Regions from separate parts of the Homo sapiens genome. Here all the other regions are reported to be linked to region 2. The links are microRNA targets in miRTarBase. Many come from high-throughput screens and were not tested one by one. Region 2 holds a microRNA gene; each other region holds the end of a gene's coding sequence.
Evidence for each region. The annotated mature microRNA hsa-miR-548t-5p reads CAAAAGUGAUCGUGGUUUUUG and lies in region 2 at 1,765-1,785, shown strand. An mRNA with a match to its seed (bases 2 to 7 or 8) in the 3' UTR can be bound and repressed. Matches are read on the target gene's strand: a 7mer-m8 pairs with bases 2 to 8, a 7mer-A1 pairs with bases 2 to 7 and ends in A, and an 8mer does both.

Region 1: the mRNA of RAN is a reported target of hsa-miR-548t-5p. Seed matches in the 3' UTR shown: 7mer-m8 at 2,789-2,795.
Region 3: miRTarBase lists ZNF850 as a target of hsa-miR-548t-5p. Seed matches in the 3' UTR shown: 7mer-m8 at 3,102-3,108 and 7mer-A1 at 661-667.
Region 4: the mRNA of ASB1 is a reported target of hsa-miR-548t-5p. The part of its 3' UTR that is shown has no 7-base or 8-base seed match.

Annotation. Positions count from the first base shown.
Region 1 is chr12:130,875,400-130,879,564 of GRCh38, reverse strand. RAN (RAN, member RAS oncogene family) reads right to left here. Exons shown (of 7, transcript NM_006325.5): 6 at 3,783-3,953; 7 at 1,887-3,683. The coding sequence ends at 3,639. Among named protein-coding and RNA genes, the nearest start is that of RAN, 5.4 kb to the right of the region's middle. RefSeq lists enhancers at 1-114, 135-354 and a silencer at 867-1,161.
Region 2 is chr4:173,266,405-173,270,569 of GRCh38, forward strand. It overlaps MIR548T (microRNA 548t), which reads left to right and starts at 1,756; the gene lies at 1,756-1,829. The region is part of intron 2 of GALNT7 (polypeptide N-acetylgalactosaminyltransferase 7); the gene reads left to right. LOC124900812 (a long non-coding RNA gene) reads right to left here. Exons shown (of 3, transcript XR_007058367.1): 2 at 1-4,165.
Region 3 is chr19:36,744,565-36,748,703 of GRCh38, forward strand. It overlaps ZNF850 (zinc finger protein 850), which reads right to left. Exons shown (of 5, transcript NM_001193552.2): 5 at 1-4,139. The coding sequence ends at 3,203. Among named protein-coding and RNA genes, the nearest start is that of ZNF850, 26 kb to the right of the region's middle.
Region 4 is chr2:238,446,204-238,450,368 of GRCh38, reverse strand. ASB1 (ankyrin repeat and SOCS box containing 1) reads right to left here. Exons shown (of 5, transcript NM_001040445.3): 5 at 1-3,985. The coding sequence ends at 3,858. Among named protein-coding and RNA genes, the nearest start is that of ASB1, 21 kb to the right of the region's middle. RefSeq lists an enhancer at 1-87.

The sequences.
Region 1 (4,165 bases), not on the chromosome of region 2:
CCCCTGCGATGCTCCCAAAGCCTCAGCTGTCCGTCCTCACACTCACTGTGGCGCTCAGCCTCATCCCAGGAACCTGACTGCCTGTCTCCCCAGGCGAAGGCTTCATGAGCAAAGCCACTGCAGCATCGCACGGTGTATCTCTGAGCACAGCTGACTTGACAGAAGGACTCAACTGTCCACATTACCGAAGACTGAGGTATACGGAATGGTTTCTGTTTTGCTTCTTCAAGGAGGGGAACTGAAACCCAACTAAATCCAAGGTGCCTCTTCCAACGCCTGTAACTAAACTTCAAGCATCACAGCCCCAACACCTGCTGATGGCACCATTTTAACTGAGGTCCATCCCGCAAGCTTCCCGACTGTCCACACTGGCTCTCTCTACTCCTGTGCACCAAAGAAACAAGCCAGAATAAATGGATAAAAGACAGTGTATGCGCATGCCTGTCCCAGCTACCCAGGAGGCTGAGGCATGAGAACCGCTTGAACCCGGGAGGCAGAGGTTGCAGTGAGCCGAGACGGCGCCACTGCACTCCAGCCTGGGAGACAGAGCGAGACTCTAAAAAATAAATAAATAAATTAAATAAATAAATAAATAAAATTAAAAAGATAGTGTAGGCTACAAACCTCAGGAAGAAAATACCAGCATGACTTCAGAATAGTCAGACCTAATGGTGTATAAAGTTCTCCCGGCTCCTCTCCACCCACCTCCATCAATCCCACCCTATCTCTAACCCCCAAGTTCTCTGTTCCTCGAGGTTCCCATAGAACATTTAATAAACACTAGGGACATGAGAGAGCAGCGACATGGCCCTCGCCCTCGTGGCAATTAGTCTAGGAAGGGAAAGTCGCTATCGCAAATTTGCCATGCTGACTAGGGCTGAAGGCAATCTTGTAATGTCTGTAGTCGGACATCCAACTCAAGGTAAAAAGCAGAGTGAACTCTAAAGGAACTAAAGCATTAACTGGTAGGACCGACTTCAGGAGAGGGAAGGGGGAGTTCTGGAAAGCAGCATGCACACAGATCTCAAGATGCACGTGTGACCAGAGCCTGCAAGACCTTGTAGGAAATGTGGAGCAGGCGAGATGCATCAGATGTTTTTTGAATAGGACTCTGACCCCTTAACTAAAGATAAGGTTTCCATGGTTAGGTGCCGTTTCTCCCCACCATGCCCTCGGCTTCAAGGGTAAAAGGTGCTGCAAGGAGTTAGGATAGGTGCTGTCCTAGTACAGGGTCTGCCTCATACAGGGAAAGCTTAGTCTCACGTAATCTTGCTGGGCAGGATAGCCCTGTACAGCCCGAGTGGCAGAAAACATCATACACGATGTCCGTCAGTTTGCTGGCAAGAAAAGCTGAATCCAACCCTCATCCCATTTGCTCAGCAGGTAATTTTTTGTGTTTCTGATCTGTTTTTGCAAAAGAAACCAGAAATTCTCTGTACTTGAGTTCCTTCAGGTGAACAGTTAGCCAGGAAACCAGTCCTCTTTGGAGGCTATTTTGGAGTCTCATCTTTTCTAGACATTTTATGATTGATACAATTTTTTAAAAAATCCCATTCTATGTGGTTTTTTAAAAAAACTGGCTCTCACACAAATTGAAACTACTAATTTACCAGTTTCACATTATATCCACACAAGACCTATGCACTAACTATGCTTTTTCTTAATGACTTTGCTCTAATAAGCTATTACTGGTTTGCAGTAACTTCATATAAAGCTTTCAAGGCTTCCCCCATTAGACACGAGATTTCAAAAAATGGAGAGCAGACTTTTCCCATTTGTACAATCTGGAGAGAACTGACCCCTTCCCCGCCGCCCCCCCAAAAGATAATAATCTCTGCTAACTCTTCAGCATTTCCTAAAGCAAATACTAGAGATGATTCAAAAAATCCAGGCAAAGTAGAAGCAATATATTTTGCAACAATTATTCTTTCAATAAAGGACTTGTAAATTCTCTCCCACACCACGTTAGACAGGTAAGTGACGTCACTTCCAAATTTCAACTGTTACATAGAAGATCCAGAATGTCAACACCACTTGCAATCTCCACAAGGTTACAAACAACACATACACCTTCAATTCAAAATACCTGAATGAAAGGTTTCATCCCAATTATGGGGAAAAAACTTCCCATCTCACAGGCTGGTTAGAAACTGGTTCTGAATACAGCGTAACATACACAGCAATTCAGATCTTAAGAAACTCAACTGTTGCCAGTTAATACAGTAAGTAGAACTTTATTCAGCTTCACCCTTATTTCATTTTTCCATATATTTAAGTGATCCTTTCTATACCTTTTAAGGTAAGCAATCATCTCAAGATTATCAGACATCTAAAGAAAACTTTGGTAAACTGGACTATAGTAATCGTATGAGAAAAAAATAGCTCAAGATTCCTAACTGCTACAAGAATAGTGTTGATGGGATCAAACTCCTAATTATCCTAATAGACCTAATTCATTTTTAAATGTGGAAAATATGCAAGATAAATTAAATGCTTAGTTAAAAAAAAAAAAAAGTTTCACCAACTGTTCTCCATTACTGAGAAGCCCCCACACTGCCCCACTGTGCATATTCCTAGTATTTCATCCATGTCCTGCTCTGCTGTGCTGCCCTACAAAAAAACCCTCCCGGGGGGGAAAAAAAAACAAAAAAACGGTGTAGTGTGAACTGCTGAAGAACTTAAATGTTCAAGACATCTTTAAAGTCTAGGAGTACCTGAAAACTGTGGGTAAACATGGACCATTTTCCTTGCGTATCAACTTCACACTAAGCATCTAACATTCAAACAAAAAAGTGCAAAATTTGTAATTATTTTTAACAGCAAGAATTCCCAACCTCCTGCCATCCACTGATGTTCCATCCTGTTTGAGGTTCTACATTAAAACATGATTACTTTTGCCATAAAAGAAAATATTACCCTTAAAATATCTATTTGATATGTACAAACCACATTTTTATTCTGACAGGTCACAGATTTTGAGCAAGTGCTTCCCTAGGTGACCCTACCTAGCCAATATGAAGGTGGAGCAAACACTGCTTTAGCTTAACTGCACTAATATTTACACCATGTAACCCTTCTAACCAAATAGAATACTGCTGACCTGTCATCATCAGTTTGTGTGACATGGCTCAAATGTACAAAAATAAACATAGGGAGAAATTAACCCAATAGATTTCAAATTAAGTGATAAAAGCAAGGCAATTCAAATATTAACATGGCATAAAACTTCCCTACTTTAGTGGTTTCCAAATGCTATTTATAAACAAGGGATGAGTTCACTTGCTTAGATATTTGAAATACAACTTTATTCTGATTCTAAACGAAAAGGAATGGGAATGACAGTAACAAACAAGATTTCACCACTGAATATTGTGATGTGACTGCAGCAGTCTTATATATGAAACTCAAGGAATCAACTGCGTTCCAAAACAGCTAAATATGCAGGTCCAAACAATGAAGTTATTTTTTAAACTGCCACATTCACTCCGAAGCCCACTCATCTCCTTCAGCATCCCACAGATGAAGCACATGTTCCGCTTAGCTAGATAATAATGAGGTGGCACACACGCTGCACCGCTGACATCACAGGACAGCTGCCTATAAAACTAGACTTCTGACGCTGGGCTCCAGCTTCATTCTCACAGGTCATCATCCTCATCCGGGAGAGCAGTTGTCTGAGCAACCTAGACGAAGAGATGGAAAAACGTTAACACTCCAGATCAAAACTGCCAGGAATAAACAAGCCAAACCGAACAATCTGAACAGCAAAGTGGCCACAATACCTCTAAGTCGTGCTCATACTGTGCTGCCAAAGCTGGGTCCATGACAACTTCTGGTGGGGCGAGAGCAGGCATGGCAACAAATTCCAAGTTAGGGTCTCCAATGAGCTTCCTAGCAAGCCAGAGGAAGGGCTTTTCAAAGTTGTAGTTACTTTTGGCAGAAATGTCGTAGTACTGTTTAAAAGAAAGGTAAAATTACTTTTTAAAATTCATTATTAAGATGACGATTTTTCTAGGACATTGCAAGATAAGAAAATGTTAAGATTCTTGGCAAGGCATGGTGGCTCATGCCTGTAATCCCAGCACTTTCGGGGGCTGAGGTGGGATTGCCTGAGGCCAATAGTACACGATCAGGCCTGGGCAACAGAGCAAGACCCCAACTCCAC
Region 2 (4,165 bases):
GGCTGAGAAGAATGAATCCAGGTCTTCTAGGACCGACCTTTCACTATACCAGACAAAAGAGCACGAAAGTGTGTTGATCAGAGCAGTAGTTTTAATTGTAGTATTTTTGATACATTTGTGAAACATTTTATAGTAATAAAAATTTTTACTTAGGAGCAAAAGAAGTATGTTATCAATCCCAAGGTAACTCTTTTTAAATGTGGACATATAAAATTCCAATTATATGTAGAAGGGCCTCTGCTTAAATCTAAGTTGTAAGAAGTTATACTATTAATAAGAGAACAGATATAAAAATAATAAAATCCTGCCATTTTCGGCAACATGGATGAGCATGGGGGACATTATGTTAAAAATAAGCCAGGCACCGAAAGACAAGTATTGCATGTTCTCACTCACGTGGAAGCTAAAAAATTTGATCTCATGGAGGTAGAGAGTATAATGACGGCTACCTGAGGCTGGGAAGGGTGTGTGTGTGTGTGTGTGTGTGTGTGTGTGTGTGTGTGTGTGTGTGTGTGTGTGTGTGGAGGGCTGGGATGTGGGATAAAGAGGGGTTGGCTAATGGCTATAAACATACAGTTAGCTGGAAGGAATAAGTTCTAATGGTCAATAGGACAGCAGGTGACCATAGTTAACAACAATGTATTGTGTATTTCAAAAGGGCTAGAAAAGAATATTTGGGATGTTCCCAACACAAAGAAATGATAAATGTTTGAGGTGGTGCATATCCTAAATACCCTGCTTTGATCATTACCCATTATATGCATGTATCCATATATCACATGTATCCCATAAATAGGTACTATTATCATATATTAATTTTTAAAAGCCACCTTAGTATGGCCTAGAAGTAGAGGATCAGTGTTGAGGGTATGGGCAAAATTTACCATTGTACCATGCCTGTCACTTAGATCACCCTCCAGCCTGGCCCCTGAAACGCGTACCTGAATGCTAGGGAGATACACTGAAAGAGCATTCCATTAAAATGCCTGTCAAACTGAAGGATGGCAAATTTCTGTACTTGAGGGTTTGTGGACACCCATAGGCAGATTACCAGCCAGTGGCTTCTGCAGCGCCAGGAAACCATGCCTGGGCACAGACCAGCAAATGTCATCAGCAATGGCCATTCCTTAGAATAGGCACAGCAGGGGGACCAGCTTCACAGGACCAGGGGCCCCTTTGCAGCAGAGTCTTCACCTCAGCAAGCAGAGCTCACAGAAAATGAGGGGTGCTGCATGGTATCCGAGAGTGCCAAGTTCATAAATACACATGAGGTTCACTTTGGGAATCCCATACAGAGCTGAAAGAGTGATGAGCATGATATTGAGCATTTAGGGAGCTTTGGTTTCCTCTTCTAGCAATTGTGGATAATAATACTTGGCTTGTAAAGTTATTGTGGGTAACAAATGTGCTAAAGGACATAAAAGGCATATCACACATGAGCTCCACCGGTTGGAGGTCACAGTTGTTGGAGGCCACCTTCATCCCTTGTGTGGCATAGAGAAGCTTCAGAAGCTCTTTTTTCTGTATAGGCCTCTCATCATGCCAGGTGTGTGGTATTCAGCCTTATCTTTAAAATATGGTACCCTCTTCATTGTATTTCATCCTGCCGTCTTACTACAAAAGAGGAGGAGTCCTAAAGGAAGTTAGTAAATACAAAGAAGTTCTTAAGGTCAACCTAAGATAAAGAAATGCTTGCTTGTAAGTGCTGGGTGATTGAATCTATAATTTGCGTCAAGAGAAGTGAAGAAAAATGTTAGGGTGGTGCAAAAGTGATCGTGGTTTTTGCAATTTTTTAATGACAAAAACCACAATTACTTTTGCACCAACCTAACCTTGTTTTAGGCATGTATCTATTTAAAGACACTTTATTTTACCTATAACGTTGATGGGTTTACATTGAACTCAGGGCCAATAGCACTGTAACTCGCACCCAAACAAAGCTTGTCTCACGTGGATTTTCTGCACAGGACACAGCACAGCATCTTTGTGCTTAGGATACCAGGTAGCACACTGACATTATTCTCGGGAGGCTGTTTTAAACAGCAAAATTACCAACTAAAAGCACAAAAATGAGAAAATCTGTGGCACCAAACAAACTGCAAATAGGACACTTGTTTTCTCTCTCGTTTTTTTTTTTTTTTTTTTTTTTTTTTGAGATGGAGTCTCGCTCTGTAGCCCAGGCGTGGCGCCATCTTGGCTCACAGCAAGCTCTGCCTCCCAGGTTCACGCCATTCTCCTGCCTCAGCCTCCCGAGTAGCTGGGACTACAGGCGTCCACCACCACGCCCAGCTAATTTTTTTTTTTTTTTGTATTTTTAGTAGAGATGGGGTTTCACCGTGTTAGCCAGGATGGTCTCAATCTCCTGACCTCTTGATCCGCCCTTCTTGGCCTCCCAAAGTGCTGGGATTACAGGCGTGAGCCACCGCACCCGGACACTTGTTTACTCTATGAGCAGAAACAAGAAACAGAACATCCTCGTGTGCATGCCCATCAGGCATCTCCAATTGCAATCCACATTTGTGGACGTAGAATCCACAAATAATAAGGAGCCACTGAATTTTTGTATATTTAGTATGGGGCTCAGGTTAATCACAGAAATATTTACTATATAGTTAGTGGGCAAAATGCCCAGTACCCCATTATAATAAACCCAAATCTCAGTAACAGTGAAGATGTTTCTCAGAGGGGCATGGCTCCTCTGATGTTTGTCAGATAAGCATGTCTTATTATAGGGGCACTCAGACAACAGAGGCACAGAACAAAACAAAATATTTTTTGTCTGTTAATTTATTTCAAAAATGAAATCTGATAATGGCTTTTAGAAATGTGAAGACCAAAAAGCATCAAATTTTGTTTTTCCATTTAAGGAATAGAAATAAAGTGGCCGAGTTATTATTATATGTTCCGCCCATAATTCATCTTTCCTTGCTCCTTCCCACCCCTCCCCACTTTATCTTCCACCTCCTTTTATAGATACCTAACTGCTAAAATGGGCTTGGGAAGGCAGCTGGAATCATGCCAAGGTGTACCCAACAGAAGCTGCTGCAGTTAGTGACATGAGCTATGGAACACAGGAGGTCTTTTGCACTGATTGGAATATTTATTAGATTTAGTGCTGAAATAGTCTCTGCTGATAAGCAGACCTAATCTGAATTTCAAAGGTCCTTATGACCACGTAAATGTGATAGTATCATATCCTCAGGCCCCAAGTGCATCACCTTTCCTAAATGGTTGGATGCTGTATTGAATCTATTTAATATCCTGGTAACTAGCTTTGACTTTTTTCAGGAATACTTAATAATTTTAGATTTAATCTTCCCTCCTCCTCCTCCTCCTCAACAGAAGTAATTTAAATTCTTTCCAAGTAGTCATTGCACCTGTTTCTTACTTCAATCTTGGTCTCAAAGAAATATACAACAAACTCCGATAGACCACGGCCATAAAGTCCAATTTTATAATCATGCAGGAAAAGGAATGCTTCTTGAGGATCAAAAGTTGCAGTCATGATGCTAGGATGTTTCATATCCAGTAAAACTAGAGACACCCCACCTCATCAGCTGATTGTGGGAGAAGTCGTTTACAAAAGTCCTGTGAAGAAAGAACTAGATGATATAAATGTATGCATATTTCTAGAACCTGAAAAATATAAAAAGATAATCAAGTGTACTTGGACCCATAGCCACTGGTTTTAACCATTCTGCAGAAGTATAGCGCAATTATTATTGGCAATATGTGAAGATATGGATGATTTCATGGGGAAATCTTTGAAATTAAAGTGGGATAATTTGGAGGTACAGGGGAAATGTTTTTCCCTTTAAACTGTGGCAATAACCCTTGTAATTGCATGTGCTCTCCAGAATAAAGATATAGCAGATTGACATCAGCTTCAGAAAATGAGACATTAGGTACCTGAGGGATTCAGTCAAATTGCTCCTATGAAATCTTGAGTTTTGAAGATTGAAAAAAAAATGCTTGTTTTTGTGACAAGTGTTTTGGGGAATATTTTAGGGGATAATTGATGTTCTGCATTCCAATACCTTAGGTAATGAGGAAGCTGTGGAAACAGCCTCCTTTCTTTTATGAAGGCTTTCGTATTCAAGATCACCATAGAGGTCAGTGCTGTGAAGCTAATCTTGGACGCCTATCTCAATTGCTTCAGAGTATT
Region 3 (4,139 bases), not on the chromosome of region 2:
GCAGTGAGCCAAGATTGTGGCATTGCACTCCAGCCTGGGCAACACAGCAAAAACCTGTCACACATGAAAAAGACAACTGTGAACTGTAAAAAGCACTCCTCCATCTTCACCCTCTCTGTATATATTTATGTTTAAATATCTCCAAGGAAGCAGTTACAAAAACATGGAGAATAATAAATGACAGAGTAAGAATTTGAGAACAAACATTTGATTTGTTTCCATAAATTGAGACAAACCTCAACTGACTACAAATTGAGACAAAAGAATCAATTGAGCCGGGCGGGGTGGCTCACGCCTGTAATCCCAGCACTTTGGGAGGCCGAGGTGGGCGGGTCATGAGGTCAGGAGATTGAGACCATCCTGGCTAACATGGTGAAATTCCGTCTCTACTACAAATACAAAAAATTAGCCAGGCGTGGTGGCGGGCACCTGTAGTCACAGCTACTAGGGAGGCTGAGGCAGGAGAATGGCGTGAACCTGGGAGGTGGAGCTTGCAGTGAGTCGAGATCACGCCACTGCACTCCAGCCTGGGCGACAGAACGAGACTGTCTCAAAAAAAATCAATTGAGACAAAGCCTCAATTGATTAACCTTAAAATAACCTTCTTAAAAGATATGTGTGTGTGTGTGTGTGTATATAAATCATCCATAAGCATATTAGTAAAAGTACAAATCAACAGATATGTTTTAGAGAAGTGTTAAATTTTTTAAACGCAAGTGTAATTTAAATAGAATGAAATACAACAATCCGAAGTGCATAGACGATGAGGTAAGATTTTTTTCATCAACTTTATTGAAGTGTAATTTACATATAATAAAATGCAACCATATGTCTACATTCATGCAAATACCACCTTGTAAGAAATGCCTTTCCTGACTACCTTATCTAAATTAGTCCTGCCCAGAGTTCAGAGACCAGCCTGACCAACATGGAGAAACCCCGTCTCTACTAAATAATACAAAAATTAGTCGGGCATGGTGGAGCATGCCTGTAATCCCAGTTACTCAGGAGGCTGAGTCAAGAGAATCGCTTGAACCTGGGAGGCGGAGGTTGCAGTGAGCCAAGATCGTGCCATTGCACTCCAGCCTGGGCAACAAGAGCAAAACTCCATCTCAAAAAAAAAAAAAAGAAAAAAGAAAAAGAAAGTCCCAGGTGCAGTGGCTCATGATTGTAATCCCAGCACTTTGAGAGGACAAGGTGGGCCATTCTTTATATTCATAAGGTGGGAAGATTGCTTGAAGACAGGAATTCAAGACCAGCCTGGGTAACAAAGCAAGACTCCAACTCTACTGAAATAAAAAATAAAAACTTAGCTGGGTGTCATGGTGCTGCTGGGAGTATAGCAGTGAGGACGACCAGAGGTCACTCTTGTCACCATCTTGGATTTGGCCGACTTCTTTACTGCAAGATGTTTTCTCAGCAAGGTCTTTATGACCTGTATCTTATGCTGACCTCATATCTCATCTTGTGACTTAGAATGACTTATCTGTCTAGGAATGCAGTCCAGTAGGTTTCAGTGTTACTTTACACAGCTCCTATTCAAGAAGAAGTTGCTCTGGTTTACACGCCTCTGACGTAACCATGCAGTGAACAAGTCTATTGGCTCCATTTATTCACCAGCATGTGCTCACTTTGTATCTGTGTCATATTTGGATGATCCCAACAATATTTCAACTTTCTCATTGTTGTTATATCTGTTATGGTGGCCTATGATTATCTTAGGCACCACTACTTGTTTTAGGGCATCACAAACTGTGTCCATATAAGACAGCAAACTTAATTGATAAACATGGTGTGTGTTCTGACTACAAACTTAATTGATAAACACTGTGTGTGTTCTGACTGCTCCACTGACTGGCTCACTGCAACATCCGCCTCCCAGGTTCAAGCGATTCTCCAGCCTTGCCTCCTGAATAGCTGGGATTACAGGCATATGCCACCATGTCTGGCTGATTTTGTATTTTTAGTAGAGATGGGGTTTCAACATGTTGGCCAGGCTGGTCTTGAACTCTTAACCTCAGGTGATCCACCCACCTCAGCCTCCGAAAGTGCTGGCATTACAGGCGTGAGCCACCACGCCCGGCTTGGAATTTCTAATATAAATTGCCCACTGGATCCAAAGGAGAAGGTGCGCACAGACTTTAGTTTTGCTTGCTTTCTTTCCAGCAAGGACTTTCTTAGCCACCTTTGCAGTTATGGGCTAAAGTAGACAGGGAAATAGACAGGGAAGGCGAAGCTTAAAACAAAGTCAGTAGTCAAACATGAAAAATATAGTCACACTTATTTATTATAAAAAAACTATTACTAGCCAGGCGTGGTGGCTCACACCTGTAATCCCAGCACTTTGGGAGGCCGAGGTAGGGGGATCACGAGGTCAAAAGTTTGAGACCACCCTGACCAACACAGTGAAACCCCGTCTCTACTAAAAATACAAAAATTAGCCAAGCATGGTGGTGCATGCCTGTAATCTGAGCTACTCAGGAGGCAGAGGCAGGAGAATCACTTGAACCCAGGAGGCAGAGGTTGCAGTGAGCCAAGATAGCACCACTGCACTCCAGCCTGGGCAACAGAGCAAGACTCTGTCTCAAAACAAAACAAACAAACAAAAAATACACAAAAACAACTATTGCCATCAACATTTTATCAATTAGTAATTTTGGCACAGAGAATTTACATAACTAGCCTAATGTCACGTAGGTAGTAAATGGTTGTCTTTTGTCATTGACCACATTCTCTAATATGAATTTGTATAACTTCAATAAGCTTTGAATCATGATAGAAAACTCATCTACATTCATTATCAATTTCTTTCAGTATTAAATGTCCTAATTTTGGTGGGTGGATCACCAGGTCAGGAGATCGAGACCATCCTGGCTAACACAGTGAAACCCTGTCTCTACTAAAAATACAAAAACAAAAAAATTAGCCAGGCGTGGTGGCAGGTACCTGTAGTCCCAGCTACTAGGGAGGCTGAGGCAGGAGAATGGCATGAACCCAGGAGGCAGAGCTTGCAGTGAGCCGAGATAGCGCCACTGCACTCCAGCCTGGGCGACAGAGCAAGACTCCGTCTCAAAAAAAAAAAAAAAAGTCGTAATTCTGGAAAAAGTGAATATGAAGTAATACACATCCATTGTATTTGACCCACATATGGAATCTGCTGATGATCCATGACAAATGGCATGAGAACAGTTTCCTACATTAATTATGTTAGGTCATGAATTCTCTGATGTCGAGTAAGCTGTGTAAGCTGTTTAAAGGCCTTCCCACATGTCTTACATTCATAGGGTTTCTCGCCAGTGTGAACACTCTGATGTCGGCTGAGTCCTGAGGCATAGAAAAAGGCTTTCCCACATTCCGGACATTGATAAGTTTTCTCACCAGTATGGATTCGTTTATGTTGACTAAGTTGTGAAGGACATCTAAAGGCCTTCCCACATTCCTTACAATCATAAGGTTTCTCACCAGTGTGAGTTCGCTGATGTCGAATTAGTTCTGAGCCGCAAGTAAAAGATTTCCCACATTCTTTACATTCATAAGGTCTGTCACCGGTATGAATTCTCTGATGTAGAGTAAGGTGTGTACGCTGTCTGAAGGACTTCCCACATGTCTTACATTCATAGGGTTTCTCGCCAGTGTGAATACTGTGATGTTTGGTGAGTCCTGAGAAACGGACAAAGGCTTTTCCACATTCATGACATCGATAAGGTTTCTCACCAGTATGGATTCGTTGATGTTGAGTAAGTTTTGAACGACGTCTAAAGGCCTTGCCACATTCCTTACAATCATAGGGTTTCTCACCAGTGTGAATTCGCCGATGTTGGATTATTGCTGAGCGAAAAGCAAAAGATTTTCCACATTCCTTACAATGATAGGGTTTCTCACCAGTGTGAATTCGCTGATGTTCAATTAGTGTTGAGCGAGAAGTAAAAGATTTCCCACATTCTTTACAACTGTAGCGTTTCTCACCAGTGTGAACTGGCCGATGTTGAATTAGTGCTGAGCGAAGAGTAAAAGATTTCCCACATTCCTTGCAATGATAAGGTTTCTCACCAGTGTGAAGTGGCTGATGTTGAATTAGTGTTGAATGAGAAGTAAAAGATTTCCCACATTCCTTACAATCATAGAGCTTCTCACCAGTG
Region 4 (4,165 bases), not on the chromosome of region 2:
TTTATCATCCAAATAAGGAAGAAAATAACTTCAGAATAAAGAACAATCCTTTAAGTTGAACAAATGTGACTTCATCAATTATTTACCATGCTGTTCTCATACGCCTCACCTGCATAGAGCGCTCTGTCCCCAGTGCTATGCTGTGGGCCACAAGGACTCTGGCCCATCGGGGTCCACAGTCCAGCCCGGATCTCCCAGGGTCACACGTTCATCCAGCCCTGTCACCATCTCAAATGCATTTCCACTAAGAAGAGGGACAAGTCACCAGGACAGCAGTTTACACACACATGGAGACTGCTTGCGTAACACATTGCTTCCCATGTGACCCCACAAAACCCTGCCAGAAAGGCACAGCAGGAAGCCTTGTCCCTGTCTGAAGTGGAGCTGCCTCTGTTAATAGGGATGTGGCCAAGGCCGCACGGATGGCAGCAAAGCACAGGCCAAGCGTCTCTCTCAGGCAGACTCTTCCTTGGCTCAGTCCTATGTCTGCTGTATCTTCCTCTCCTTCTCTCAAGAACTTTTAATTTGAAGAATCAATTCATTGAAAAAGGAAAAAGAAAACTTACTAAAAACAATTGTTCCTTCTCTTTAAAATTACCTGTTTAACAAGTACATTTTAACAATGTACTAAATTTTCAAATGTCAAAAGAAAACACCAAAAAACAAGCATTGTTGCCTTAAACACTTTTCTGGAACAAGGCAGAATATAAATAAATAAATAAATAACACGAGTGATGCAAAGAGTCACAGAATGTGGGTGATATTGATGGGTTTATCTAAAACCCCTCACCCGGGACTCCAAAGCTGAATTCTCAGAGTTACCAACGTTGTCCCCCACCCCACCACAGCCCAGCCCAGCCCATCTGTTGACAGCAGCCAAGGCCCAGGGCCCAGGACTGTTCCACAGCCACTGGCAGTGGTGACAGTCAGATGCTTCTGGGATGCAACCAGGGGCAACCTTCAGGCTCCTTCCCCCAGCCCATCGAGCCCCTCTCCTAGGGAGGACTCCGGGCCAGCCAGGCAGCAGCCTCACTGAGGACCACGTTTCCCTGTCCCATGGGACTTGGGCGCCCCAGGGCTTAGAAAGGTGATTTCCTAAAGTGCTTAGGCGGAAAGTGCTACTCTTCCTATTCTGTAACCTGTCCTTGCCAACAGAAAAAAAAGGGAGCTTTAGTGAAGGAAGGCAATGCCACTAAAACCCAGGAGGAATGACCTTAGCTACCCACCCTGTTTTCAGATTCATATTTGGCAGCTATGAAACAAGATACCAAACCTCCAAATTGTTTGGATTCTGAAAAAATTGGCAAAGGCTGGCTTGAACAGAGAGGAAGTTGAACATGTCCTCTGCAAATGAAAAGCTGAGACCCTAGACACCTGCAGGCCAGCCAGGCTGGGCCACAGGCCAGGGAAGGGCCATGAGAGGCCCCCTCCTCCAGCTCATTCTCTCCCCAGATACATCATTCCCTGGCCAGGTCTGGGTGAGTCTTCTCTGCAACGATCCATTCAGTCCACTCCTCCTAGAGAGACCAGGGGCAGTGACCTGGTCCCTCCAAAACAGGCCCTGGGCTGTGCAAAGGAGCATGACGCCCATGCTGCCACATCTGGGTCCTTGCCTCTGTGCAGCCTGAAGGTCACACCACCACACTCACGCATGGGACTCCCACGAGGCAGCATTCCCAGGTGCTGCTTCCCAAAAGGTTCAATAACTGAGCCACCTCCTGCACCGGGCAGGGCTGGGGAGGCCTCGTCCTTAACAGGCCCCTGCAGAAAGTACTCAGTAGAGCAGACGCAGAGCGTATCATGTGTCTACAACATGGCTCACCTCGAAAAAAGCCACCCTCCTCTGAGCCCAAAGGGTGGCAGGAAGAAGAGCCTCGAGGTGGGAGGAGCTAAACAGTAAGCCAGTAAAGAGCCAGAGTGCAGGGAGCTAACCAGCCTCCCTGAAAGCCCCTATCAGCCCTACCAGGGTGATGAGCCACTGCCTACGACCTCCAGTGACAAGGCCCAGTCCACGGTGGTGGCTCCAACTTCCGTATCATCATTCCTTAACTCCCTATAGCTCCTGCCCCAGCCACAGCCCAATTTTTGTCCTAGTCCCACTTTGGTACCACAAAGAACACGCCCACCCCCTCTCCCGGGCTGAAGCCCCTGCAGCACCCAGCCCCGGCTGTCCTGGCCCTCCCCAGCCGCTCACCACCTGCGGTTCCTCTCCTATCTTGGGAAGACCCTCCTGGCTTCAGCAGGACCCAATCCCAAGCTCCCCTCGGGAACAGCACACAGCCCACATTTACACAACCATCACAGCTTCTAACAGTGTCACCTCAGCTGAGGAAACACCTCCCGGATTGCATTTTCCCCTCTGAATCACCCGAGGACTGTTCTTCCCTTCGGAACTGCATCTGCACATACACGGGTCAGCTGGGGTGACCCACACAGAGCCCATTTGTGACACAAGGGGTTGGGGGTATAGAATTCTATCCTCTGGCTGTAGAACGCAATAATGGCCAGACACTGCCTGCCTGCTAAGACACACAGTGATGCTACTAAGTAAATAAAACGGTATCATTGTTCAAGTTTTACAAATTGGATTTCTCTTATTACAGAAAATCAAACACAGATTTGAAATCTGCGCCTTCCTAAATATATCTGAAGTCTAGAATCACCATGGATCCACACAATGGTCCTCATGGGCTTCAAATGACGAAATGTGATTCACTGGAAACAGCAGCAACCTGGGAGGGCTCTGAGGCTGCAGCCACCAGCCCACCTGCCGGTGACCCTCACACCTGGCTGTGCAGCCCTGGGTAAGGGGAAGCCCAACTCATGCAGCCAAAGCTATCAGCAATGATAACCCAGGCCATCTCTCTCCCGGGAAAGACTTCTGACCTCACTGCTATCCCCTGCATAGATTCTAGAAGCAGCGACCAAGACAAAAGAGAGCAATCAACCAACCGCCAGATGTTCTGTCCACTGGACAGCATGCGCCTGGAGGCTCATAACCACCCAGAGGACTCGCTGCATTTTTCACTTTCTGGTACGTGTGGGGGACAGAAGACAGCGCCTCGGGCATTTTCCTCGCCTATTAGAACTGGCAGTGAATGCTGTTGGAACGGTCCTTGGTCCCAAGGAAGGCAGTCATTTCCTGGGGAGTTTGGTGTGGGCCTCCTAAAATCAATCACTGGAAGCTCCCTAAGGTGAAGTGGCAGAAAAATCGTGACACCTGATGAGAGGCACAGTAGGTGTTGGAACAGGTGCCGTGCAGCCAGGAAACCACCCTTGAGTGAAGACACTCACTATGAGACCTCCATCGCAAAGAGAGAATACTGAAGGGGCAAGGAAGGGGCGTGTATGACAAGCGCATGTGTTACCCCAGGAGCAGGAAAAACCAACCAGCAAGTTCATGAACTGCATTTCTGTCCTCTATTTTGCTTACGAAACTCCCTTTTCATTGAGATACTAGAAGGCTTTAATCGAACCATCAAATTGAGAAGTAGAAAAATAAAGAGAAGCACAGTTCCAGAAGTGCTGGGAGTCTTCCCTACAGGGAAATTAGTAGGCCTCCAACCTCAGCCCCTACATGTACATACCCCATGGCCCGTTACATTAATATGCAACTGAAAATCCAGAACAGAGAACTTGGGAAAAACAATAATAACTTTAGTATAAGCCTCTCAGCTGACAATGACCCAAGGACTGTTCAGCGGCCCAGGCACCTGAGGAGCAATGACAGTCTACGAGGACATCTTCTGCAGCAACAGCCATCAGGAGACCAGCAGCAGCACAGCACTCAGGGCTCGGTGTCCACCTCCCTGCAGATCACTTTCTCCCTCACTGGAATCAACCGCAGCACTTGGAGTCTACTCATGGAGTAGAAACTTCTTTATGGGGTCTGGCAGAGGCAGCGAAGGAATCAGATGAAGCCGGTGTTTGCCAAGAGCTCTTCTCACAGCCACACGGCACAGACACAGCAAGGTTCTGGGAACACCTGAAGGCCGTGGGAAGAAAGAGAGGGATAGAGGAAGGTTCATTCTATTCCAGTTATAGAGAGAAAAGGCAGCTGGGACTGCCAGCCAGAAGTGCACCAATGCTCACTACCAACTTCAAAACGCTCAGTGAAACACAAAGTGATGGCTTTTCCTGATGGATGAGGAGAGCAGGCCCCAGG